Homo sapiens: one gene and its partners. The protein of the gene in region 2 interacts with the protein of the main gene of each other region in a pairwise test. Each region holds a gene or a part of one and is shown on either strand. Other genes may lie near its edges.

What was found.
Region 1: the proteins of CSNK2A2 (region 2) and ASL interact in a two-hybrid assay, tested with the Homo sapiens proteins (one large-scale study listed by BioGRID and IntAct).
Region 3: the proteins of CSNK2A2 (region 2) and ZNHIT3 interact in a two-hybrid assay, tested with the Homo sapiens proteins (one large-scale study listed by BioGRID and IntAct).
Region 4: the proteins of CSNK2A2 (region 2) and ZNF670 interact in binary tests that used the Homo sapiens proteins (3 or more experiments, as listed by UniProt).
Region 5: the proteins of CSNK2A2 (region 2) and BHLHE23 interact in binary tests that used the Homo sapiens proteins (3 or more experiments, as listed by UniProt).
Region 6: the proteins of CSNK2A2 (region 2) and DCPS interact in a two-hybrid assay, tested with the Homo sapiens proteins (one large-scale study listed by BioGRID and IntAct).
Region 7: the proteins of CSNK2A2 (region 2) and ZNF219 interact in a two-hybrid assay, tested with the Homo sapiens proteins (one large-scale study listed by BioGRID and IntAct).

The regions. Positions count from the first base shown.
Region 1 is NC_000007.14:66,085,819-66,089,318, forward strand, and holds part of ASL (argininosuccinate lyase), read left to right. Parts: intron 1-766; coding exon 767-844; intron 845-925; coding exon 926-1,003; intron 1,004-1,515; coding exon 1,516-1,568; intron 1,569-1,910; coding exon 1,911-1,973; intron 1,974-2,988; coding exon 2,989-3,103; intron 3,104-3,272; coding exon 3,273-3,357; intron 3,358-3,457; coding exon 3,458-3,500.
Region 2 is NC_000016.10:58,191,607-58,195,106, forward strand, and holds part of CSNK2A2 (casein kinase II subunit alpha'), read right to left. Parts: intron 1-3,500.
Region 3 is NC_000017.11:36,485,202-36,489,480, forward strand, and holds the start of ZNHIT3 (zinc finger HIT domain-containing protein 3), read left to right. Parts: upstream 1-1,479; 5' UTR 1,480-1,498; coding exon 1,499-1,584; intron 1,585-1,733; coding exon 1,734-1,765; intron 1,766-4,279.
Region 4 is NC_000001.11:247,068,812-247,072,311, forward strand, and holds part of ZNF670 (zinc finger protein 670), read right to left. Parts: intron 1-3,500. UniProt on the Homo sapiens protein: May be involved in transcriptional regulation.
Region 5 is NC_000020.11:63,005,427-63,008,195, forward strand, and holds BHLHE23 (class E basic helix-loop-helix protein 23), read right to left. Parts: upstream 1,539-2,769; 5' UTR 1,349-1,538; coding exon 623-1,348; 3' UTR 501-622; downstream 1-500. UniProt on the Homo sapiens protein: May function as transcriptional repressor. May modulate the expression of genes required for the differentiation and/or maintenance of pancreatic and neuronal cell types. May be important for rod bipolar cell maturation.
Region 6 is NC_000011.10:126,345,560-126,349,059, reverse strand, and holds part of DCPS (m7GpppX diphosphatase), read right to left. Parts: coding exon 3,447-3,500; 3' UTR 1-3,446. UniProt on the Homo sapiens protein: Decapping scavenger enzyme that catalyzes the cleavage of a residual cap structure following the degradation of mRNAs by the 3'->5' exosome-mediated mRNA decay pathway.
Region 7 is NC_000014.9:21,092,617-21,095,655, reverse strand, and holds part of ZNF219 (zinc finger protein 219), read left to right. Parts: intron 1-1,981; 5' UTR 1,982-2,064; coding exon 2,065-2,070; intron 2,071-2,365; coding exon 2,366-3,039. UniProt on the Homo sapiens protein: Transcriptional regulator. Recognizes and binds 2 copies of the core DNA sequence motif 5'-GGGGG-3'. Binds to the HMGN1 promoter and may repress HMGN1 expression. Regulates SNCA expression in primary cortical neurons.

The DNA of each region.
Region 1 (3,500 bases), on a different chromosome or scaffold from region 2:
AGGATGGTCTCGATCTCCTGACCTTGTGATCTGCCCGCCTCGGCCTCCCAAAGTGCTGGGATTACAGGCGTGAGTTACCGCGCCTGGCCACAAGACCCCATCTTTACAAAAAACTAAAAATTAGCTGGGCATGGTGGCATGTCCCTTTAGTCCCAGCTACTCAGGAGGCTGAGACAGGAGGATCGCTTGAGCCCAGGAGATCGAGGCAGCAGTGAGCTATGATCATGCCACTGCACTCCAGTCTGGGCAACAGAACGAGACCTTGTCTCTAAAAATAAAAACAAAACAAAACAACAAGAAAACAGGACCATCACTCACAGCACCTCTGCCTCTGCCCTGCCTACTTGAATGAGGTGCAGGGCATCTCACCTGCTCAGAGCAGCCCTTGAATGAGCCCCAGCTATTTCTAGGGTCCTCAAACGAAACCTCCCACGGCCAAGTCATACCCAACATGGGCCTCCTCCCCTATTCTGGCCCCTGCTCGGAGATGCTGAGTGACAGAGGCTGGACTTGGGGTGTTTCTGGCAAAGCCTCACTGCAGGAAGCCCCACAGCTCAGGCCCAGTCCTTGGTTCACACGGTCCCACTTCCAGCTTCTTTTGCCCTTAAGACTGATTTGTCCCTGGGAGATCACCAGATCCCTCATTCAGGTGGAGTGCTGCAGCGTGACACTTTTTCCAGGGGTGACCCAGGCCTGCAGGGTTCCAGTGTCACAGGCAGGCCTTGCATGAGCCTCCACCCGAGCTTCTGCTCCTCCTCTCCCACAGGGAACGTGATGTTCTCTTCCCGGGGTACACCCATTTGCAGAGGGCCCAGCCCATCCGCTGGAGCCACTGGATTCTGAGGTGAGCCAGGTGAGGTGCAGGGGCTGTGCTAGAGGGGAGGACCCCGGCTGCCCTGACCCTCCTGCCCCTGGCTTCCCACAGCCACGCCGTGGCACTGACCCGAGACTCTGAGCGGCTGCTGGAGGTGCGGAAGCGGATCAATGTCCTGCCCCTGGGGAGGTGGGTGAGGCTCCAGTGCCCCGAGGGCCTGGTGGGGGTGGCTGCTGCATAGCCTTAGGGATTGACAGAGCTGGGAAGTGCAGAGTGGGACAGAAAACCGCCTTATCTGCTCAGCGGGGGACTCTGCATGGAGCCCCAGCTCTCGCTAAGGTGACGACCAAGCCATTGAATGTGTCTGAGCAGGGCCAGAGCCCTCCAGCAAGGCTCCTGGCAAGCCCAGCCTGCTGCCCTCAGCCTGACATGTGGGAACATGTGTCAGGAGACAAGTGTCCTGCACCCAGGGTGACTTAGTGCTTGGGGACAAGTGTTTTGTGGACACTTGGGGACAAGTATTCTGTACCCAAGGAGACTGGGCCAGGGAAGAGGCTAAGCGCCAGGTGGTTGCCCTGGCAACCAGGACTTGGTTCTCTGTGTGTGCGTTCGTGTGTGTGTGTGTGTGTGTGTGTGTGTGTGTGTGTGTGTCAGGGCTGCCTGCCAGGAGCCCTGGTCACCATGAATCCCTGTCCCTGCAGTGGGGCCATTGCAGGCAATCCCCTGGGTGTGGACCGAGAGCTGCTCCGAGCAGGTGAGACGTCCTGCCCCTCCTCCCCAGGGAGAATCACCCTCAGCACCCGCCAAGACCTGCAGACACACCTGAAACCAGAGGGCAGGGGCCTGTGGCTCCTGGTGAAACCTTCATTCATTGCCTATGGGCACTGAGGTCATCAAGTTCAGGGGTCACTCATGGCAGGGATGCCTGGTACTGAGAGACTCAGGGCTCCTGCCTCCCTCCTGGGACTGTGCAAAAGATCCCTCCCCCCAGCTGTTGCCCCACCCTGATCAGGGGAGGGGGCTGGGCAACCTAGTTGGGGGAGAGGGGGCCACTCCCTGTCCTCCAGCTTAGCCCTGCTTCCTCCCACCCCCCCAGAACTCAACTTTGGGGCCATCACTCTCAACAGCATGGATGCCACTAGTGAGCGGGACTTTGTGGGTGAGTCCTGGGGAGCCAGTCCCCTGCCCTGTGCCTCACTTTAGTCCTTCAGCCCAGCTTCTCTCCAGTTTCCTCCCACACCTCCACGGACAGGCTGGTTGTGGTGATATTGTACACTGAAGTATAAACCTTAAATGGGTAAAGTGGGTGGGGCATGGTGGTTCACCATGCCCAGCACTGGCCAACATGGTGAAACCCCATCTCTACTAAGAATACAAAATTTAGCTGGGTGTGTGGTGGCAGGTGCCTGTAATCCCAGCTACTCAGGAGTTCTGAGGCCAGAGAATCACTTGAACCCAGGAGGCGGAGGCTGCAGTGAGCCAAGATCACGCCAGTGCACTCCAGCCTGGGCAACAAGAGCGAAACTCCATCTCAAAAAATAAAATAAAATAAAATAAAAATAAATAGGCCAGGCATGGTGGCTCACGCCCGTAATCCTAGCACTTTGGGAGTCCGAGGCAGGTGGATCACATGAGGTCAGGAGTTTAAGACCAGCCTGGCCAACATGGTGAAACCCCATCTCTACTAAAAGCACAAAAATTAGCTGGGCATGGTGGTGCATGCCTGTAATCCCAGCTACTCGGGAGGCTAAGGAAGGAGATTCGCTGGAACCTGGGAGGTAGAGGTTGCAGTGAGCCAAGATTGTGCCACTGTACTCCAGCCTGTGCATTGGGAGCGAGACTCCATCTCAATAAATAAATAAATAAATAAATGGATAAATTGTATGTGAGTGATAACTCAGTAAAGCTGGTTTATTTAAAACAACAACAATAACAAAAAACACGCTAGGTGCAATGGCTTACGTTTGTAATCCTAGCACTTTGGGAGGCCAAAGCAGAAGGATTGCTTGAGCCCACAAGTTTCAGAACAGCTTGGGCGACATAGCACGACCCCATCTTTGCGAAAAATGAAAATTTAGCCGGGTCCCCCCACCGCCTAACCTCCTCCTGCCCCCTGTATGGTCAGGCTGGGTGGGGATGGGAGAGGCCTGGTGACTGGGAACCTTTTCTCCCAGCCGAGTTCCTGTTCTGGGCTTCGCTGTGCATGACCCATCTCAGCAGGATGGCCGAGGACCTCATCCTCTACTGCACCAAGGAATTCAGCTTCGTGCAGCTCTCAGATGCCTACAGGTAAGCCCTGAACTGCCACCTCCATCTGCCGCTGCCGGCCTCTGTATCCCCCGCCGCCCGCGGACGTGGCTGCCTTCCTCCCCGTCCCACCCCTCCGCCAGACCTGGCCATTGCGGCGCTGGACCAGCCAAGGGTCCAGCCCCTTCAGCGCCAGCACCTCTGTCCCCAGCACGGGAAGCAGCCTGATGCCCCAGAAGAAAAACCCCGACAGTTTGGAGCTGATCCGGAGCAAGGCTGGGCGTGTGTTTGGGCGGGTGAGCAAGGCAGGGGGAGGGGCGGGGCCTCTGGGCTGATGGTGGGTGGCCAGGGGGGCAGGATCCCGGGTCCAGCCCCTGTGCCTCCCTCTTCCCGCAGTGTGCCGGGCTCCTGATGACCCTCAAGGGACTTCCCAGCACCT
Region 2 (3,500 bases):
CCCACCTCGGCCTACCAAAGGGCTGGGATTACAGGCGTGAGGCACCGCGCCTAGCCTATGTTACATGTATTTTAACACAATTTTTTTTTAAAGGCAAGGCATAGAGCAGACCCTTTGAATCTCATTAGGAGAACACTACAACCCTTTCTACTATTGGTTCTGCCTCTAACATCACTCGCATGACCCAAATGTAATATTGTTATTACTACTATACTTTATTGATCTCTCAGGCCAGGCACTGTTTTAAGCACATTTAACCGTCTTAGATGAGCACTATTAACAGTTTTACTTGAGGAAGGACACCAAGGCACAGAGAACTTAAGTAACTGTTTGACGTCACAGAGCGTCTACAGTTGGAGCTAACACCTGAAACCAGGCAGACCACTTCCTAGGCCATACTCTCTCAGGAAAGAAAAGCATTTTGTAGATTACTAAAACATGACAATCAATCTCTCTACCCATCTATCTATAGTTTATCTGACTTTCCTAACAATCCTGTGACTTAAGCAGGAAATGTATGCTTATTTCATAGATGAGAAAACAGTCAAGTGGGTATCAATGAAGAAACTAGTTCTGGAACTCAAGCCTTCTGCCCTCTCATTTACAGCACTTCCTACACTACACCACCCTGATGATGAGATGGTAGATCCTGAAATTAAACTCTAGAAACTATCTGGAGCCCTGCTTTATACATGAAAATGGGCACACTATATCAAGATATTCTTTTCACATGTGGTTTGCTCTCAAATAAACTCATATATTAAAGGGATAAAACTATTAAACTATTAATCCCGAAATCTGCCAAGTGATCATGCTGAGACTTGGAGGAACTCTATGGGTTAAAAAAAAAAAAAACCATAAAAACACTATTTACTGAGGCTTCAAGAGAATAAAGCAGCATTTCATTGAAGCATTAAACATGCTGCTGTGGATACTAATCATAGAGAACGCCTGCCTGGGTCCCTATAGCCCTCGAGGACTCTTGGATTCCACACTTCAACTAGCAACTTACCAAAGTCAAACACTTCCTTTGAGAAAAATAACTCCAAAAATCATTAGAAACGAATTAACTTCATTTGACTCCTGGTGAGTGTTCCTCAATTCTTCCAGTACAGATCAGGACATCACAAAGTCAAACATCCAGCTAATGTCCTAATTATGCTCCTCGCATCTACCAAGACTTCATGACAGGTACACAAGGTCCTACACCGAGTGCTTCCACCCCCTGACTACATGACGCTGAGCATATACATCCTTTCTCTGGGTCTTGGTTGATTTGTAAAAAGGGCCTGGGTTCTAATGGTTTCTAGGTTTCTAAGTGCCCGCATTCTGCGATTCTGTTTGACACAGGTTAACTACACTCTTAATCTGTGACTCCCCAGTACAATGCTGGAAACGGCCTAGTTCACATATAATTTTTAACATTATTTTTAATGTTAGCAATACTTTAGTGATACTGTTTGCACTACTTTTATACCATGAGACATTAGTGAAAATCAGAATGTACCAAAAACTTAGATAAATACCACTAATGTGTTGTTTCAGGAAGATGTCTTCATACACATGCCTAAATTTAGGAGGGTAAAAAACCTACCACAGGAGAAATAAAGAGGAAATAAAGAGGAAAGCACCATTCTGATATAATATAAAGATCACCAGCTCACGATGAAGCTACTAACAAAGATGTATAACCAATGCCCATCCTTTTAACACTACCTACTGACAACACAGAACTTAAAAAATATCTGCAAGTATGCTAAACATGCTTAAAGAGCAAAATTTTAATACCACCACCCTTTGTTTAAAGCTAAATAATTAATATCTAGGGGAAAATGGATAGTCAATCTGTTTATAAAATAAGACCTCTAAGAGGAAGCCTTATATGGGAATTTCCAAGTCATTTTGCACTGGTTCAAAATGCTGTTTTTTAAAAATAGTGTTGCTCTTAACTTTTATTCAAGAAATAGCAGTTTAATTTGAAAGATCCCAAGGACCCCAAGAAGTACTGAAATCTACACACACAGGCAGTATTCATAAAATGCTAAAAGTTGTCAAAGGTGGCCACTTTTACTTCTGTGTACACTTTTCTAAGAGGTACTACAAAGGAAATGAAGAACTGATTTTTCAAAATCAAAAGATGAAACTTTTGGCACTAATGTAGCTTTCTGCCCTGCCATATAAACGCTTACCATTTTCCTCCTCCTTTTTCTCTTTTCTCCTCAAAACAATTTGTCAAAAAAAGATACAACCTCTCTATTGATTGGAAAGTTTTAAGATTTTAGCCACAGAATACCACTTGGGGATAGACAGTAAAATTTTGCTCACCAGTTTCTAAATTCCTAAAACTTTTTAGCAGCTCATTTTTGATCAATACCTGGAAATCCACTAATGCAAATTAAATGATATAAAATTCCTCTGTAGTCACTCATCATCCACCCATTCTCACATATATTGCAAAGAACTGATACGAAACGTTACTGACTACAAAAGTAAGACCACTTGTCCTCAAGAAAGCCACCCTCTATCTTGGTCACTATGTGCATAATACAATCCTGCAGCTAAAATACAGCAGGCTTTTACAAAAAGGAAGGCTGTTCTAGATTCTTCCAAGTTATGAGGAGCTGGTAGTCTGTTAAGGACCTAATTTCCTATGACCAAGCACCACAATAGTAGCTATTAGTCATAACTTCAACTTATTTGAATAAAGAAACACAACTTTGGCTAAAGACCTTGTTACCCTGTTCTTTTTAAAAAGTAATACTTTTAATTCACAAAACAACAAAACCACAATAATGCCATTAGTGATATATTACCCCATCCTTCAGACAGGAACAAAATCTGGATAGAAATGCCACCGGGCTTTAAAAAACATAAAGAAGTGAGTCTAATTTTCACTAGTGGTTTAGGCTGCACTGTGAAAACAAACAACATCAAGAAGAAACAAGAAACATTTCATTAACTAGGGGCCTCCCAAGTCTGATTCCAGGACACTGGTACCTGTTTCTGTGCTCAACGTTCAGATCCTACAATCCAGTGCTAAAATGAACAGTAAGAGATATGAAGAAATAGGAAACAGGAGTTCTGGCTAATGGTCATTCAACATAATGACATTAGGTAAGTTTCTTTGTGCCTAGGTCTCCCATTTGTAAAGATAACCTGCAGCAGCTTACATACTGGGTTTCCTAACATACGCCAAGAATCTTTAAAGTAGGGGGAAAGCTAGAGCCTATAAAGCTCTTTGGATGATGAAGCAGCAATGCGATGCTCTCCTAAATGAACATGCTGGTATTTATACACACACCTGAATGCTGTTCCTTTAAAAAAAAAAAAGCACCACAGAAAATCATACACTTATTCTAAAAATGCTGCCATAGCACAAAAGTTCAGACATTTTTCTGGAATTGCTTTAGAGTCAGCAATTCATTCTTCTGAATATACAGCAGTGGAATATGGATATTCCTAATTTCAATTTACGTTTTGCTTATTTCTTAGATTTGAAG
Region 3 (4,279 bases), on a different chromosome or scaffold from region 2:
CCCAGCAGCTTCAGCACTGAGGACTGGACTGGGTCGCCACGCCCAAAGGAAGGATAATTACTCACCTCCCACTCAAGAAGCAGGCGGCAGAACTGTTTTGGAGAGCATGGCTTGGGGCCTGGGACCTATGTTCATGCGGTCCAGACGGAGATCCATGAGAGTTAAGACTCTTTCTAGATATCAGGTAGCACTTCTGATTACAAAACTTTTGCACATGGTCTCCTCTCTGCTTTACAACAGCTCAGGAAAGTAGGCCCAAACATCCACTTTAATAGATGAGGGAGCTCAGAGGGGGTAACCAACCCCTCCAGGTCACACAGCCAGGGAGGGGGTTGAGCCAAGGTTCAAACCACTGCCTCGGTTGTTGCAGATACATCCCTGCAGACACCTTTATTGAAGAGGGACCCTGAAGGCTGAACGGCCAACACAGAAGAGGAGGCACTTGGGAGTAAGGGTGATTTATGGCCCTGGGAGGGCCCAGTGCAGGTAGGATGGGAGCTAAGGTAAGGCTGGGCCATGCCTAGCTGCAAGCAAATTTCCTTAAAAAACAAACAACAAAAAACATTACTTTTTCTAAACCTAAAGTTTGTGGTGGCATTCAAGTCCCATCATAGCCCATCTATCCAGACTCATCTGCCTGGGATCCCCGTCTTGGGACTAGTGGTCACTGGCCTGCTTCCTGGTCAATTAGCTTCCGGGACTAGGGGGAGGTGTGAGGAGCCTAGAGTGCAAAATTTAAGAAGCACTCAGTCTCAGGGGCGTGCAGGTGCAGGGTAGCGACGGCAGGACTCTAAGAGTGAGTCTCTTTCCTCCCCGTTTCCCCGTCCTACTTTCACTCTAAGCATTTAGTTCCCAGGGGACAGAGACGACTTCTTCATTAGAAGACCCCGGGGGGTCCCCAGCCCGGAAGGGCTCACAGTTGGAGCTCAAACATTTGCCACTGTTCAGGCTCATCTTTCTTTCCCCAGTGAAAAATGGTCTAGGTTGGGAAGGGCAGGTTCCTGTCTACTGCGTGATCCAACCGATTCTGGTTCGCCCAATGTCTGGACTTGTCCTTTGCCAAGAATAAGCAGATGAGATGGGCGGATGAACCCCAATGTCCCTGCAAGATTCAGGAAGTCCCAGCCAGAAAGTAAAGGACGTTTAGTTCCATGTATTGTTTTCTTTTTTACATGCGGGGCAACACACCTGGACAGTGTCGATGGCTTGCTCCAAGCCACACGGCCGCATAGGGACAGGGACTGGGCTACATAACAAGTTCTTCGACGCTGTGATCTAATCAAGGAAAACCTGGGACGCAGCTAATAGATGCGCATCGAGTGTATCGACGCTCTAAGTACGAGGGCTGGAACAGTGAGCAGGATCAGTCCATTGCTTTTGCCTACCTGCTGAGCGCTGATTGGTCCCCGTTTAGGAAACGGAAAAAGGGGCGTGCACGCGGGCGCGGCTGCGTGAGAGGCGCGCGGCGGCGCAGTGAACAGTCTCCTTCCACAAAACCATGGCGTCGCTCAAATGTAGCACCGTCGTCTGCGTGATCTGCTTGGAGAAGCCCAAATACCGCTGTCCAGCCTGCCGCGTGCCCTAGTGAGCGGGGAGGTCGCGGGGTCCAGGGGCGCGGGTGTCCGGCCATGGCGGGAGGGCGGGAGGCCGGGAGGCCGGGCGGGAGCGGGCGGGCTGCTGGAGGGGCCGGGGACCCTCGGGGCTGACGCGGCCTGTGGCCTCTGTTGTTACAGCTGCTCGGTAGTCTGCTTCCGGAAGCACAAAGGTGAGCCCCGTCCCCGCCAGCCCTCGTACCACTGCGCACGGGGCAGCCCCCACGTCCAGCCTCCGTCTTGGGGGCGTGGACCCTTGGGCTGCGCTTCCTTTCCCGCCTCGGGTCTCCGCGGGTTCTGCAGGAACCTTGCTTCCTCTGACTTGGTCCCTGGTGTCTCTGTGTGTCGGACAGTTCCCTCTGTTGTCCCTGCCTGTAATCGCTCTCAGGGTTTTGGTCAGTAGCCTTTCTTCTACCCCGCTTCTCCTTCTGCGTGTTACTCTTTTTTGCTTAGAAATAGTTTCCGATTGCTTTTCCCACCGAGGTCTACCCTAGCAGTTTCTTCCTCAGTATTCTGATGTAGCCCCTCACCATTTGGCTGAAACTGCGCTAACTTTAACAGTATTTTCACTCGTGTAAATAATGTCTTGTTAGAAACAAAGAGGTAAGTCCATGTACAATACAAGGAGACGTCCTTGATTTGTTAAGAGAAAAAAAGAACCAAGTAAGTTCTGTGTATGATGTGAACACACTTTTGTACAGTTAAAAAGAAGTGACCTGGCCGGGCGCGGTGGCTCACGCCTGTGGTCCCGGCACTTTGAGAGGCCAAGGCGGGTGGATCACCTGAGCCCAGGAGTTCGAGACCAGCCTGGCCAACATGGTGAAACTCCGTCTCTACTAAAAATACAAAAATTAGGCGGGCGAGGTGCGCGCCTGTAATCCCAGCTACTCAGGAGGCTGAGGCAGGAGAATCGCTTGAACCCGGGAGGCGGAGGTTGTAGTGAGCCGAAATCGCACCACTGCACTCCAGCCTGGGCTACAGAGCCAGACTCAGTCTGGAAAAAAAAAGAAAAAAAAAAGTTTGATGTAGGTGGGGCGCGGTGGGTCACGCCTGTAATCCCAGCACTTTGGGAGGCCGAGGCGGGCGGATCATTTGAGCTCAGGAGTTTGAGACCAGCCTGGGCAACATAGCGAAACCCCGTCTCTATAAACAAACAAAGCCAGGCGTGGTGGCCTGTGCCAGTGGTCCCAGCTACTCAGGAAGCAGAGGTGGGAAGATCGCTTGAGCCTGGGAGGAGGAGGTTGCAGTGAGCCAGGATCGTACCACTGCACTCCAGCCTGGGAGACAGCAAGACTGTCTCAAAAAAAAAAAAAAAAAAAGCTTGATGTAGATTCTTTCAGCTTATTTCCACTCTTGTACCAATATATAGAACTTTTTTTTTTAGCTTTTAGAATCTCAGCAATGAGACTGTACCCAACATCCTCATTTGAGTTTATATATTGGGCACTTTTTAAAACCTAGTGCATACAGGCTGGGCGCAGTGGCTCATGCCTGTAATCCCAGCACTTTGGGATGCCAAGGTGGGTGGATCACCTGAGGTCAGGAGTTCGAGACCAGCCTGGCCAACATTATGAAACCACATCTCTACTAAAAATACAAAAATAAGCTGGGTGTGGAGGTGCGCGCCTGTAATCCCAGCTACTTAGGAGGCTGAGGCAGGATAATTGCTTGAACCATGGAGACGCAGGTTGCAGTGAGCCAAGACTGCACCACTGCACTCCAGCCTGGGCAACAGAGTGAGACTCCATCTAAAAAAAAATTAAAAAAATTAAAAATAAAGACTAGTGCATACAAGTTCTAGCTCACTGACTTAAAGGACTGTATGTTATTTCATTATATAGTTGGTACGACCATTATTTATATAAAGCCTCCTATTGGTTGATTTTTCTTTTTAATATTTGTTTTTAATTGACACATAATTGCATACAATTTGAGTTACAGTGTGATACTTCGATACCTGTATACAATGTTTAAGGATCAAATTAGGGTAATTAGCATATTCGCCCCAAATAATCATTTCTTCATGTTGGGAACACTCGCAATCCTCTCTTGTAGCTATTTGAAAGTATAAATTGCTGCCAACATGGTCACACTAAGGTACTGTGTAACACTAGAACTTATTCCTCCCATCTAGCTGTAATTTTGTATCCATTAAGCAACTTCTCCCTAGCCCCCTACACTCTACTCTTCCTAGCCTCCAGTTACCACTATTCTGCTCTCTACTTCTGTGAAATCAACTTGCTTAGCATCCACATGTTAACAAGAACATCTTATGGTGCCTGGCTTGTTTCACTTAACATTATGTTCTTTGGGCTCATCCATGTTCCTGCAAGTGACAGGATTTCATGGTTTTTTATGGCTAATATCCAGTGTATATATGTACCGCATTTCTTTATCCATCTGTTGGTGGATCCTTAGGTTCATTCCTTATCTTGGCTGTTGTGACTAGCAGTAAACGCAGGAGTGCAGGTATCTCTTCGGCAGACTGATTTCATTTCCTTTGGATATATATACAGTAGTGGGATTGCTGGATCATATGGTAGTTCTATTCGTAGTTTTTTTTTAGGAACCTCTATGCTGTTTTCCATAATGACTATACTAATTTACATTCCCAATAACAGTGCAGTGTATAAGAGTTCCCTTTTCTCCACATCCTTGCCAACATGTTTTTTTCTTTTTGATAATAG
Region 4 (3,500 bases), on a different chromosome or scaffold from region 2:
CTGGGGTACTATTTTGCCAAAAAAAAAAAAAAAAAAAAGAATGAGATCCAGTCGTTTGCAGCAACAACACGGATGGAACTGGAGATCATGATGTTAAGCAAAATAAGCCAGGCACAGAAAAACAAATATCGCATGTTCTCACTTATCTGTGGGATATAAAAATCAAAACAACTGAACTCATGGGCATAGAGAGTCGAAGGATGGTTACCAGAGGTGGGGAAAAGTAGTGGCGAGCTGGAGGAGAGGTGGAGACAGTTAATGGCTGACAAAAAAAAAATACTTAGAAAGAATAAAAAAGACATACTATTTGATAGCACAAGGTGTCTACAGTCAATGATAACTTAATTGTACATTTTAACGTAACTTAAAGAGTGTAATTTGATTGTAACTCAAAGGATAAATGCCTGATACCCCATTCTCCATGAGGTGCTTATTTCACATTGCATACCTGTATCAAAACATCTCATGTAATCCATAGATATATACACCTTGTATGTCCCCAAGAAAGTTAAAGAAGACAAAAAAAGGTAACAAATGCTGGCAAGGATATGGAAAAAAAGAGAATCCTTGTACACAGCTGGTGGGAATGTCAACTAGTACAACTACTATGGAGAACAGTTTGAAGGTCTTTCAAAAAAAAACTAAAAAGAAACCTGCCATATGATCCAGCAATCCTCCTGCTAGGTATATAGCCAAAAGAAAGGAAACCAGTATGTCAAAGAGATATCCACACTCTCGTTTGTTGTAGCACTGTTTACGATAGCCAAAATTTGGAAACAACCTAAGTGTCCATCAACAGATGAATGCATAAAGAAAATGTACATACACACAGTGGAGAACTATTCAGCCATAAGAAAGCATGAGAGCCTGTCATCTGCAATAACATGGGTGGAACTAGAAGTCATTAAGCTAAGTGAAATAAGCCAGGCACAGAAAGACAAACAGCACAAGTTCTTACTTATTTGTGGGATCTAAAAATCAAAACAACTGAACTCATGGACATGAGTCAAAGGATGGTTACCAGAGGTTGGGAAGTGTAGTCAGGGGGACTAGGGAAGAGGTGGGGATGGTTAATGCGTATTTAAAAAACAGAAAGAATAAGTAAGACCTAGCATGTGACAGCACAACAGGATGATTATAGTCAGCAATAATTTAATTGTACACTTTAAAGCAACTAAGTATAATTGGATTATTTGTAATACAAAGGGTAAATGCTTGAGGGGATGGACACCCCATTCTCCATGATGTAATTATTACAAATTGCATCCCTGTATCAAAATATCTCCTGTACCCCATAAATATACATACTTAGTATGTACCCACAAAAATTAAAAATAAAAAAATTAAGAAAAAAAACATCGATTAAAGACTTAAATGTGGCCAGGCATGGTAGCTCACACCTGTAATCCCAGCACTTTGGGAGGCCGAGGTGGGCAGATCACGAGGTCAGGAGATCAAGACCATCCTGGCTAACATGGTGAAACCCCGTCTCTACTAAAAATACAAAAAACTAGCCAGGCGTGGTGGCAGGCGCCTGTAGTCCCAGCTACTTGGGAGGCTGAGGCAGGAGAATGGCATGAACCCGGGAGGCAGAGCTCGCAGTGAGCCGAGATCACGCCACTGCACTCCAGCCTGGGCGACAGAGTGAGACTCCGTCTCAAAACAAACAAACAAACAAACAAAAAGACTTAAATGTAAAACCTGTAAGTATAAAAACCCTAGAGGAAAACCTAGGACATACCATTATGGACATAATCCTTGGTAAATATTTCATGACAAAGTCTCCAAAAGCAATCGCAACAAAAACAAAAATAAATAAGTGGGACCTAATCAAACTAAAGAGCCTCTACACAACAAGATAAACTGTCAACAGAGTAAACAGACAACCTACAGAATACAAGAAAATATTTGCTATCTGTGTATCTGACAACGGTTTAATATCCAGGATCTATAAGAAACTTGAACTAATCAACAAGGAAAAATGGCAAACAACTCCATAAAAAAATGGGCAAGAATATGAACAGACACTTCTCCAAAGAAGACATACACATGGTCAAGAAGTGTGTGAAAAATTATGCTCAACATCTCTAATCATTAGAGAAATGCAAATCAAAACCATCCAGTCAGAATAACTATTACAAAAAAGTCAGAAAATAACAGATGTTTGCGAGGTTGCAGAGAAAAGGGAATGCTTACACGCTGCTGGAGGGGATGTAAATTAGTTCAGCCACTGTGGAAAGCATTTTGGAGATTTCTCAAAGACCTTAAAACAGAACTACCATTCAACCCAGCAATCCTATTACTGGGTATATATATCCAAGGGAATCTGAATCATTCTACCAAAAAGACACATGCATGTGTATATTCACTGCAGCACTATTCACAATAGCAAAGTCATAGAATTAACCTATATGCCCAGCAACAGTAAAATGGATAAAGAATATGTGGTACACATACATCCAGGGACAATTACACAGCCATAGAAAAAAGCAAAATCACGCCCTTTGCAGCAACATGGATGTAGTTGGAGGCCATTATCCTAATCAAATTAACACAGTGGCAGAAAACCAAATACTGCATGTTCTCACTTATAAGTGGGAGCTAAACGATGAGTACACACAGACACAAAGAGTTAAATAAACACTGGTCATACTTGAAGATGAATGGTGAAAATAGGGTGAGGGTCTAAAAACTACCTATTGGTTACTATGTTCACCACCTGGGTGATAAAATCATTTGCACACCCAGTCCCACCAGTGATATTTGACCCATGTAACAATCCTGCACATGCAGCCTCTAAACCTAAAATAAAAGTTGAATAAGAAAAAAAGAAACTGGTGAATGATGAAGGTCTGAATATGAAGGTAATAAATTACATGCCTTAAAGTAATATGAAACCTTTTATACCGTACATTATTTATACTGTTATTTTTTAAATTTGAGTTATCTATTTTGAATTTTCATTAAAACGTAAGAACTCATTTATAAATTGGGTAAAATACCTATTGCTAAATATTTGTATTTCCTTTCACAGTTTTATTCTTTCTTTCTTTTTTTTTTTTTTTAGATGGAGTCTCACTCTGTTGCCCAGGCTGGAGTGCAGTGGTGCAATCTCGGCTCACTGCAAGCTCCGCCTCCCAGGTTCATGCCATTCTCCTGCCTCAGCCTCCCAAGTAGCTGGGACTACAGGTGCCCGCCACCACGCCTGGCTAATTTTTTGTATTTTTAGTAGAGACGGGGTTTCACCGTGTTAGCCAGGATGATCTTGATCTCCTGACCTCGTGATCTGCCCGCCTTGGCTTCCCAAAGTGCTGGGATTACAGGTGTCAGCCACTGCGCCCAGCCACTTTTTTTTTTTAAACAGCGTCTCACTATGTTGCCCAGGCTAAAGTGCAATGGTGCAATTACAGCTCACTGCAGCCTGGAACTCTGAGGCTCAAGTGATCCTCCCACCTGAGCCTCCCAAGCAGCCGAGACCACAGCTCCGCACTGCCATGCCT
Region 5 (2,769 bases), on a different chromosome or scaffold from region 2:
GCGCCCGCGGTCCAGCTCCTCTGCAGACGGCCATCGTGGGCTCTCCGCAGGGCTGCGGAGTCTCGGAGTCACCGAGGTGGGAGGTGCCGGCCACGCGCGTCCTCAGGAACAGAGCACTGCCCTGCAGTTTAGCACGAAGGGCCGGCTGGAGCGGGAGCGCGAGGCCCACTGCAAGAGGATCAGGAGCCAGTAAGTCCGGCTTTTCTTCGTCTCCACCTTTCGTGCGCCCGGGGCCAGGACCGCCTGTCCGGAATCTGACCAGTGCCCGTCCTCGCCGTGGCCCTGGGACCCCGCGGTGGTCTTCTTTTGGGGACGAACGGCAGTGCCCGAAGGATGCTCTACCCACCCCCGTTCCTAGACTTGCTGGGTCCCGACAATACCCAGTGGGTGCCGCGAGTTCCCGGGCGCAGAGTCCAGCGTCCGGCTCTCGAGCTCAATCCCGCGCCCCGACGGCCTTGGCGCTTCCCGCTGCGCTAAACTGTCCACCGCGCACAGGCTGGAAGCGAAGTCGGGCCCCCTCCTCCTGGTCTGCAGGGTCCCTCCAGGCCTTTCCTGTCCGGGCAGAGAGACAGTCACAGGGGCGATCGGAGGACGCGTGCGGGAGGGCCGGGGGCCCGCGCGGTCACGGCTTCTCGTGACAGTGTTTGCAAAGCGCGGAGGGCGTCCCGGAGAAGGCGGCGCACTTGTCAGGGCAGGGCCCCAGGGCGGCGCCTGCGGAGAAGGGGCACACAGTGGCCTGGCCGAAGGGCGTCAAGGGCGCGGCGTTTACGGGCGCGGCCAGGCCCTGGCCCTGGTTGAGGAAGGCCACCAGGCGCCGCATCTCGTCCAGGGCCTGCGCCTGCATGAGGATATAGTTCTTGGCGAGCAGCAGCGTGGCGATCTTGGAGAGCTTGCGCACCGACGGGCTGTGCGCGTAGGGGATGACGGCTCGCAGCCCGTCCAGCGCGTCGTTTAGGTCGTGCATGCGCCGCCGCTCGCGCGCGTTGATGCTGAGCCGCAGAGACCGCTGCTCTCGCGGCCGCCGCCGCCCGTCCGCCGCGCTCCCTGGCCCGCGCCGCCGCCGCCGCTGCTCGAAGGCGTCGTCCTCGTCCCCGCTCTGTTCGCCGCTGCTCTCCGCCGCCTGAGCTGGGGCGCGAGGTGCAGGCGCCGCGGGGAGGTCGCCGCCCGGGCCCGGAGTGCCGTAGCCGCGGGCCGCTTCGGGTTCTCGCGCCGCCCCGTAGGCGAGACCCGCAGCCGCCGCCGCGTAGCCGTGGCTTAGTGCCAGGTACGCGTCCCCCGACAGCGACTTGAGCTCGGCCATGGCCGCGCCGCCTGGGCTCGGGGGCTCGCCGGGTGGGCGGATGCTCATGTGGGTGAGCAGCCCCCGAGGCCGGCCCGAGCCCGCCGCTGCCGCTGCCGCTGCGATGAGGCTCCCGGCTCTGCGCGTCGGTCTGGCTTGCCTGCGGGTCCCAGAGCCTCGGCGCCCGCTGCCTCCTCCGCCTCTTCCTTCTCTCCCACCTCCTCTCCCTCCCAGCCGCGACGCGCAGGGGGCGGGCTCTACCTCCCCCTCGCCCCCGCTTCGGTTTTAAGCCGCGGAGGCGCCCGGTGGGACCTCGCTGCTGTCCAATCAGGGGGGACCGGGTGAGCTCCTCTTCCTGGAGCCGGGCTCCACCAGCGCCGCAGGCTCACAGGCCGGGGGTGGGGGCTCTGGACCGAGGGGCGGCGCGGGGCGGCGCGGGGCGGCGCGCGCGGTCCTGGAGCGCTAGTACTTGCTTCTCGACTCCCCGGCCGCCGCCTCCGGCCGCCCCGGGGATTCCGCCACCAAACGCACGCGTCCCAGGTGGGCACCCGCCTCGGTCCGTCTTTGAGTCTGACCCTAGCGCAAGAGTCCCTGGCGACACGCAGGGGCCAGAGCGGGGGGGCGCGCCGCAATAGCAGCAGCGCCAGCGCCAACACCCTGTCCCGCTGAGGGGCCGCTTCGGGTCGGGGTCAGGGTCGTGGGCGCTCTGGTGCAGCCGCGGCGCAGCGTGTACCCGGAGCCCGCACACTCCCTGCTCGGGGCGCCCTGTGGCCAGGCTTGAGGGGCAGAGTGAGAGGGAGTTTCTAGAACCTGTTGAAAAACGCCACGAGCGTTGCAGGCCGGGGAGGGCGGGAAGGTGGAGGGCAGCGCGGCCTGGGGCTCCCCGGGGGTGGGAGGGGAGCTCTGTGAGCTGCAGGACCGCCTCTTCCCTGCCAGCCGCTTCCTGGGCATCTATCAGCGAAACGCGTGAGGCTTGGTGGGCTTTCCCGGAGCCTCCGAACCCCTGGGGTCCAGCCACACTGGATGGGAATGTGGCCAGCCTCGGACTCGCCTTTTCAGTCCTCTTCCAACCCCGCATGAAGGCCAGAACCCCAGCCCTTCTCCCAGGTGGGAACCTGCCTGGAGGCCCGGCCGAGTGCTGAGGCTAGAGTGTGCTGAGGGATAGTGGCTTCTCCGGTCCTGGCTTGGGTGGGAGACTGGGCCACCCTGGCCTATGGCACGAGGTGGAGCGGCCCGTCGGGCCCTTCTGTGTGACCTGGGAAGGGCCGCATACCCTCCCTGTTCTCCAGGCTCCGCCCCAGGAGGAGCCACAGCGATGGGGCAGTGTGCGCAGCCCCGGGAGGGGAGTGGGAGCTGCACGTGTGTGGGGCGGATGTGCTGTCTGGAAGGTTCTGGGAACGCAGCAGTGACCGGCCTGTCCGGTGGTTCCCTGCCAGGTGCGGGGTGTGAGGAGACAGATGCATGGATAAGTCTCCGTGGGAAACTCAGGC
Region 6 (3,500 bases), on a different chromosome or scaffold from region 2:
TTCAGAGCCTAGCTCTGGTCCTCCATTCGCCACATGTTTTTTGAGCACTTATAGGTGAGTCACCACCCTAGGTTCTGGGGAAATGGTGAACAAAGGGCCAGAAGTCTCTGCTTCCTGGAGCTGACGTTCACTCCATAATGCTGGACAAGACATCCTGAGCCCATTTCTTCGTAAAAAGGAAGGAGAATGTGGGTCATGAAATGATCTGCTATATGAATGTAGTGTTATAATGTTGCTTTGTCTCAAAGGTTGGTTTGCTGAGCCAGGTAGTGTCTTAGGGGCCAGGGATAGAGAGATAACTAAAACAAAGCTCCTACCCTCAAGACCCTCTCAGTCTAGTGAGGAAAGCGGAGAAACTCACAAATAGGAATAAAAGGAGGCACTATATTGCAAAGCTATCATCTTGAGTTACCTGGGAGTCTGATATGAAGGTCACCCTAATAAAGACAGACTATGCTTTTGGAGTCTCAACAGGACTTGGCAGAGCAGCCAACCCTGGTGCACTCTAGACCTTGAGGGTGATAAGCCCAAAGAGGGTTGGATTGAGGGAGGGAGCTGCATGGGGGCCGTGGCCGGCAGGGTCCCTGGAGATTACAGCAGCAGAGCACTGGCTGGCTCTGAAGGGGAACCCTTGCCAGGCCTCTAGCAGAGGCTTGTCTTTCCATGTACAAGAAAAGTTAAGTGGTGAGGCCTGGAGAGGGGCCCCCTTCTGTACTGTGGTGAAGATAAACGAGGCTGGGAGAGGAGTGAGGGGACGCTATCCCAGAGAGGCTCCTCCCCACAGAGTGGGCAGAAGGAAGACAGAACTGGCCAGCCCCTCGGGGGAGTCGAGAAACCTTCCAGAGTGTGGGTCCCTGTCTCCATGCCCTGCCTCTCCAGACCTGAGTGCCTGCCCTCTGCTGTGACTGCCAGCCTCGTCTGTCCTGTTGGGTGAACTCTGTCCCATCTCTCTTGCCCCTCAAACATTTATTTATCCGGTGTCAAATTCCTACCCACCTTCCTCCAGGGGCCAGGCGCTACGAGATGAGGGGAAGGAACGGCAAGGTCAGCGGGAGCCCGTGGAGTCAGACCCTCCAGCAGCACCACTGGGGGCTGGGCAGGAGGGCATGGGCTGAGGCCACAGGGAAGGGCTGCTCCACAGGGAGGCCTCCCTCTGCTCCGTGGCAGTTGTGGTGCTGGAGATGGAGACCGTGTTTGCTTGTTGGGACCACATCTGCTTTCAGAGGGGAAGCGGGTCACTTCTTTCCCCTGGACCTGGAATGGGCACAACTGAGACGCAGGGAGCATTCCTGCAAGCTGGACACTGCTCTGGGAGAAGACCTCCATCCAACCTCCTGCCAAGACCCCAGCAGCTGCCAGTGTCACTGCCCACAAAAGTATTTGCTTAGCCCAAGAAGGAGTCAGTCAGATGTGTGGTGGCCATGAAATGGATCCTGCTGATTCTCTGTCAGACCTCCCTGCATTGGTCACTACCTCAAAGTTCCTTGGCTGCAACTCCATGTTGCCTGAATCTAGGGACTGTTGACGTATTGCAGGGGCTGGGCGCGGTGGCTCACGCCTGGAATCCCAGCACTTTGGGAGGCCGAGATGGGTGGATCACCTGAGGCCAGGAGTTGGAGACCAGCCTGGCCAACATGGTGAAACCCCGTCTCTACTAAAAATACAAAAATTAGCTGGGCATGGGGGCGCACCCCTGTAGTCCCAGCTACTCAGGAGGCTGAGGCAGGAGAATCACTTGAACCCAGGAGGCAGAGGTTGCAGTGAGTCGAGATTGTGCCACTGCACTCCAGCCTGGGTGATGGAGCGAGATTGTCTCAAAAAAAAAAAAAAAAAAAAGAGCTGCAGGGAAGAATGGCTGAGTGGAGGCCAGTGGCTTCATTGTGCCTCATCTGAACTCCCTGAAGGCTGAAGCAGGTCCCTGAGGCTTTCTGACCACACCCTCCACTCCCCGGCTGTTTCTATTTTTTTAATTTTTTTTTCTGAGAGGGAGTCTTGCTCTGTCACCCAGGCCAAAGTGCGGTGGCTCACGGCAACCTCCGCCTCCCGGGTTCAAGGGATTCTCCTGCTTCAGCCTCCCAAGTAGGTGGGATTATAGGAGCCCACCACCACACCTGGCTAATTTTTCTGTTTTTTAGTAGAGATGGGTTTCACCATGTTCGTGATTCTGCTGTTTCTAAGGAGTCTCTCCCAGGACCATGGGGGTCCACAGCAGGCCCTGAGACCCTGAAGCAGGTTGGCTGCACCTGGGCTACCACCTGCAGTAAAGGGGCTAATCTCTGAATGAGGCTTCCTGGTTCTCAGGCAGGGGATGGAGAGTAAGGACCACCCACTGTGCCTCAAGCTTCCCCCCTGCTGTCACTTAGGAGCCTGCCATCCTGCCATCCCTGAGAGCTTCCCAAGCAAGGCACAAAATCCACAGCCCTACTCTGACAAAGTGGCAAACACCAGCCCCTCTGGCAGCATGATGCCTTGGTCCTGTGTGCTGGAGAGAGCCTGTGTGTTTACTTGTGTGCCCGCCCATACAAGCCATGTCCCTGCGCCGCTTGAGCCCTGTTGGCTGCCTAACTGCTCATCAGCCTCTGACGCTTTGAGGTCCCTTCCTGGTCTCAAGATCCTCTGAACATCTGCCTCTGATAGGCCTTGAACCCGAGCCGCCTCCGGGCTTTTGTATTCAACTGCAACCATATCATTTGCCCTTGCTGATTCACTGTTTTGCACTTGATCTTCTGGCTGCTTCATGTGAGTCTGTTTTGTCTTCCTGCCGAGATAAAAACTCAAGGCTGGGGACTCGCTGACCAAATAACAGAGCAAGGCAGGCTTTTCGGCCTTGCATAATCTGATTCTTATTAAAACCCGCCGATTTCCAGGCACCAAGCCCCTATCCTCGTCAACAAGAAGTTTATCAGCAGGGTTGACTGACTCACAGGGAGGTGTGACCTCACTGCTGGAAGGAGGAAGTGCCATCAGAAACCTGTATAGATAATTTCCTGAAAGCTTCCAAGTTTGGTTTTTTGGGGAACTCCTCAAAGGAGAGGTGGATGGCAGGGGAAGGAGGAGGGGTGATGGGGAGGAGCAGAATAAGAAGTTGTACAAACAGGAGAGGCACAGAGTGGGGAGAAGGAAGCCACCACGGACGGTGAGCCCTGGGGCTTGGAGAAGGCCCTCGGCACCCTTCCAGGGCAGCTCCCACCTGTCAGTTGAAACCACCACCTGGAGACTTTCCACCATTCTCAAGGCCTTCCCACAGGTTCTACCCACCCACTGTCCCCCACCATCTGTCTGCCTCCCAGGCCACGCTGTCCACACTGAGTGAGCCCGCTAGTTTATTCAATACTAGGAATAAGCCGGTATAAAATACATTTTTAGAAAATTCACTTGGAGATAAAAAATCTTGTCCCCACTCCTCCCCCAATCCCACACATCTGTGCTCTTCTGCCTGAGTTAATTCAGCTTTGCTGAGCCTCCTGCAAGAGCTTGAGCAGGGGGTCGTCAGCCCTGAG
Region 7 (3,039 bases), on a different chromosome or scaffold from region 2:
AGGTGGCCCAAGTGGCTTCTGTGGTAGCCCACTGCACTCTCCATGGTACTGAAGGGATGACCATTTGTTTTAACATCTCTCTGGGGTCCAAAAGAGTCCTGTGACTTAGAATCACAAACTTTTTTCGAGCAGGAAGGGACTAACACTATAAATTAGTCCAATCCCCTTATTTTACTGATGAGTAAACTGGGAGGTTAAGTGATTTAGTAAAGGTTGTAGGGTTATCAATGTTCAGACTAGGCCTACAATAGCCTTGTACCCTTCAGTCCTATTCTAATTCACCTTTTGTGACACTATTCAGTAAGCCTGGCTAGGCTCTTAGTCCCAGGAAAGGATCCAGAGGATGAGAGTGGGTGCCCTAATTTGAAGCTACAGAAATACACATATTAAGTGGTAGTGGAGGTCGTCTAGTGACCCTTGGACAAGGACACTTTGTTAATTAATCATCTGCTAATAATAATCCTATAGCCCAGATTCCACATGTAACAGGTACCTGCCCCTTCATGGAGTTTTACCACATCCACTAAATGTCAAAAATTAAAGAAGCCTTGGACCTCCAGAGCCTTTTCTCTCTGCTGACAGGCAGGTTGACTCCTGGCACAGTTCTTTTCTATTAAAGATCCTTAGGCAAAGTAATGCTTGCATCTTTTTCTTTCTCAGTAACCCATTTCAGTTTTGTGATGCCTATTGTAAGGAAGTTCTTTATATCTCAAATATCCTTTCTTAGACAAAAAAAAAAAAAAAAAAAGGTTAGACCCACATTCATTTAGCCTTGACCAGATACTATTCTATATGAGGCAGAAAGGTAGACTAGATGACTTCTGGTCATCCTCCCAGGTCTGTTTCCATGAATCTTGATTCTGGGGTTTCTTCTAAGTCCTCATGCTAAACTCCTCTGCAGCTTAGGATCAGCACCCGCCCCCCCCCCCAACCCCTATCCTCTTCCTCTCAATGATCTTCTCCTTCCCCAGCACTGGAGCTCTGCAAGTCCCAGGCCTAGGGAATTTTAGCCTGGAGAATTTTAACCCTTTCCTGCTCAGAGCATGTGCTGAGTCCCTATCTGTGCAGATGGCCCAGCCCCGCCCCCCGTCCCTCACTCCAGCCTCTTGAGCTCAGAGCCAGTGTAATCCTCCTCTTGTGTGAGGGAGCCTCTCCCCTGCAGAGAGGAGGAAAGCCTGCCTCGGAACAGCCCTGGACAAAGGGGCTCAGATGCCCCATCATACTGCAGGCTCCAAGGTTTGAAACAAGGGGATGAATCCTATACGGTATTTGCAGTTTTTAGCCCCTTCCCCAGGCTAGCTGTGCCCCTTAACTTCCACTCCTCCCCCAACTCTCTCTTCATTCCCTCTCCCTCTGGCTCCCTCCCCCTTCATGCCCCTCCCCCTCTGTCTGTCTTCAGACTCTGCTGCTGGGAGGTGTTTCTCTCCCATGCATGAATGAGTCTCTGTAATGAATGGAAATGAATGGATCAGGAATCCAGGCGGAGGGAGGGAGAATGAGGGGGGAAAGACAGAAAGACAGGGTAAGGGCAGAAGGAAGCACTGTGGAACCTGGAAGGATGTTTGGCTGGCTGCTCAGTTAGGGATCTCAGAGCAACTGGTCCCACTTGGATAAATGGGGAGCATGGCAAGCCCACCTCATTTGCTCACCACACTGCATAGCCCAACCTACATGGGAGAGGGGCATATTGTGATGGTCTTCCCCACCGCCAGGGGGTGGGGTGGTAGCTGTGGTTGTTCTGGACCATGCATTTAAAATATAGAATTTGGGGAAGAAATCTGGATTATCTGGGAGGCTTGTAGGCTTGGCAAGTCAAGAGGTACAGTTTTTGAGTATAGCAGCCCCTTCGTGCCTCAAGAAGCAAGTAGGGAGAATGGATTGGTTTTGGGAATACAGAATGCTGAGAGTCTGGGGGTAGGGAGTGACTTTACTGCTGAAAACTAGGGCTCATCTTTTCCTCCAAATCTGTCTCTTGCTTTAGCTCCACAGCACCTGTTGCCTTCATTAGCAGCTTTTCCTCCTCTTCCCTGCACTTCCCAGAACCAAAGAATGTGAAGGGGGTCCATGGAGGTGAGTGAAGCTCTGGCTTCAACCTACAAGTACCTACAACTGTATACTCCCTCTCCTGCCTACCTCTCTCTCTCTTTGACCTCCCATTATTAGAAGTTAACTCCTTGGCCCTGACATCTCGATTCCCATACACCTCCCCCCACCCCATCTTCCCGAGGTGAGTAGCACCCTGTGTTCCTAGTTCAGGCCCCAGCCCACCTTCCCTCGTGTTGTCCTTCTGGCCCTCGAGGCGACGCCCTTGCTTCCTTTACAGCTCTACCTTCACCCTTTGCTCTACGCAGATCTTTCTCCACAGGGCTCACGTCCCCGCGCCCCGAGCGGCCACTTAGCGCCGTCGCCGCCGGCTTTCGACGGCGAGCTGGATCTGCAGCGATACTCCAACGGGCCAGCCGTGAGCGCAGGGTCGCTCGGGATGGGAGCGGTGAGCTGGTCTGAGAGTCGTGCAGGCGAACGGCGCTTCCCCTGCCCTGTATGCGGGAAGCGCTTCCGCTTCAACTCTATCCTTGCTTTGCACCTGCGGGCGCACCCAGGAGCCCAGGCCTTCCAGTGCCCTCACTGCGGCCACCGCGCGGCGCAGCGGGCTCTGCTGCGCTCGCACCTGCGCACACACCAGCCCGAGCGCCCACGTAGTCCTGCTGCACGCCTGTTGCTGGAGTTGGAAGAGCGCGCGCTACTACGCGAGGCCCGACTGGGGAGAGCCCGAAGCTCAGGGGGCATGCAGGCCACCCCTGCCACTGAGGGTCTGGCGCGGCCCCAGGCTCCTTCATCGTCCGCCTTCCGTTGCCCCTACTGCAAAGGCAAGTTTCGCACCTCGGCGGAGCGCGAACGCCACCTGCACATCCTGCATAGGCCCTGGAAGTGCGGCCTGTGCAGTTTCGGCTCCAGCCAGGAGGAGGAGCTGCTGCACCACAGCCTGACGGCCCACGGGGCTCCCGAGCGTCCCCTGGCGGCCACCTCCGCTGCGCCTCC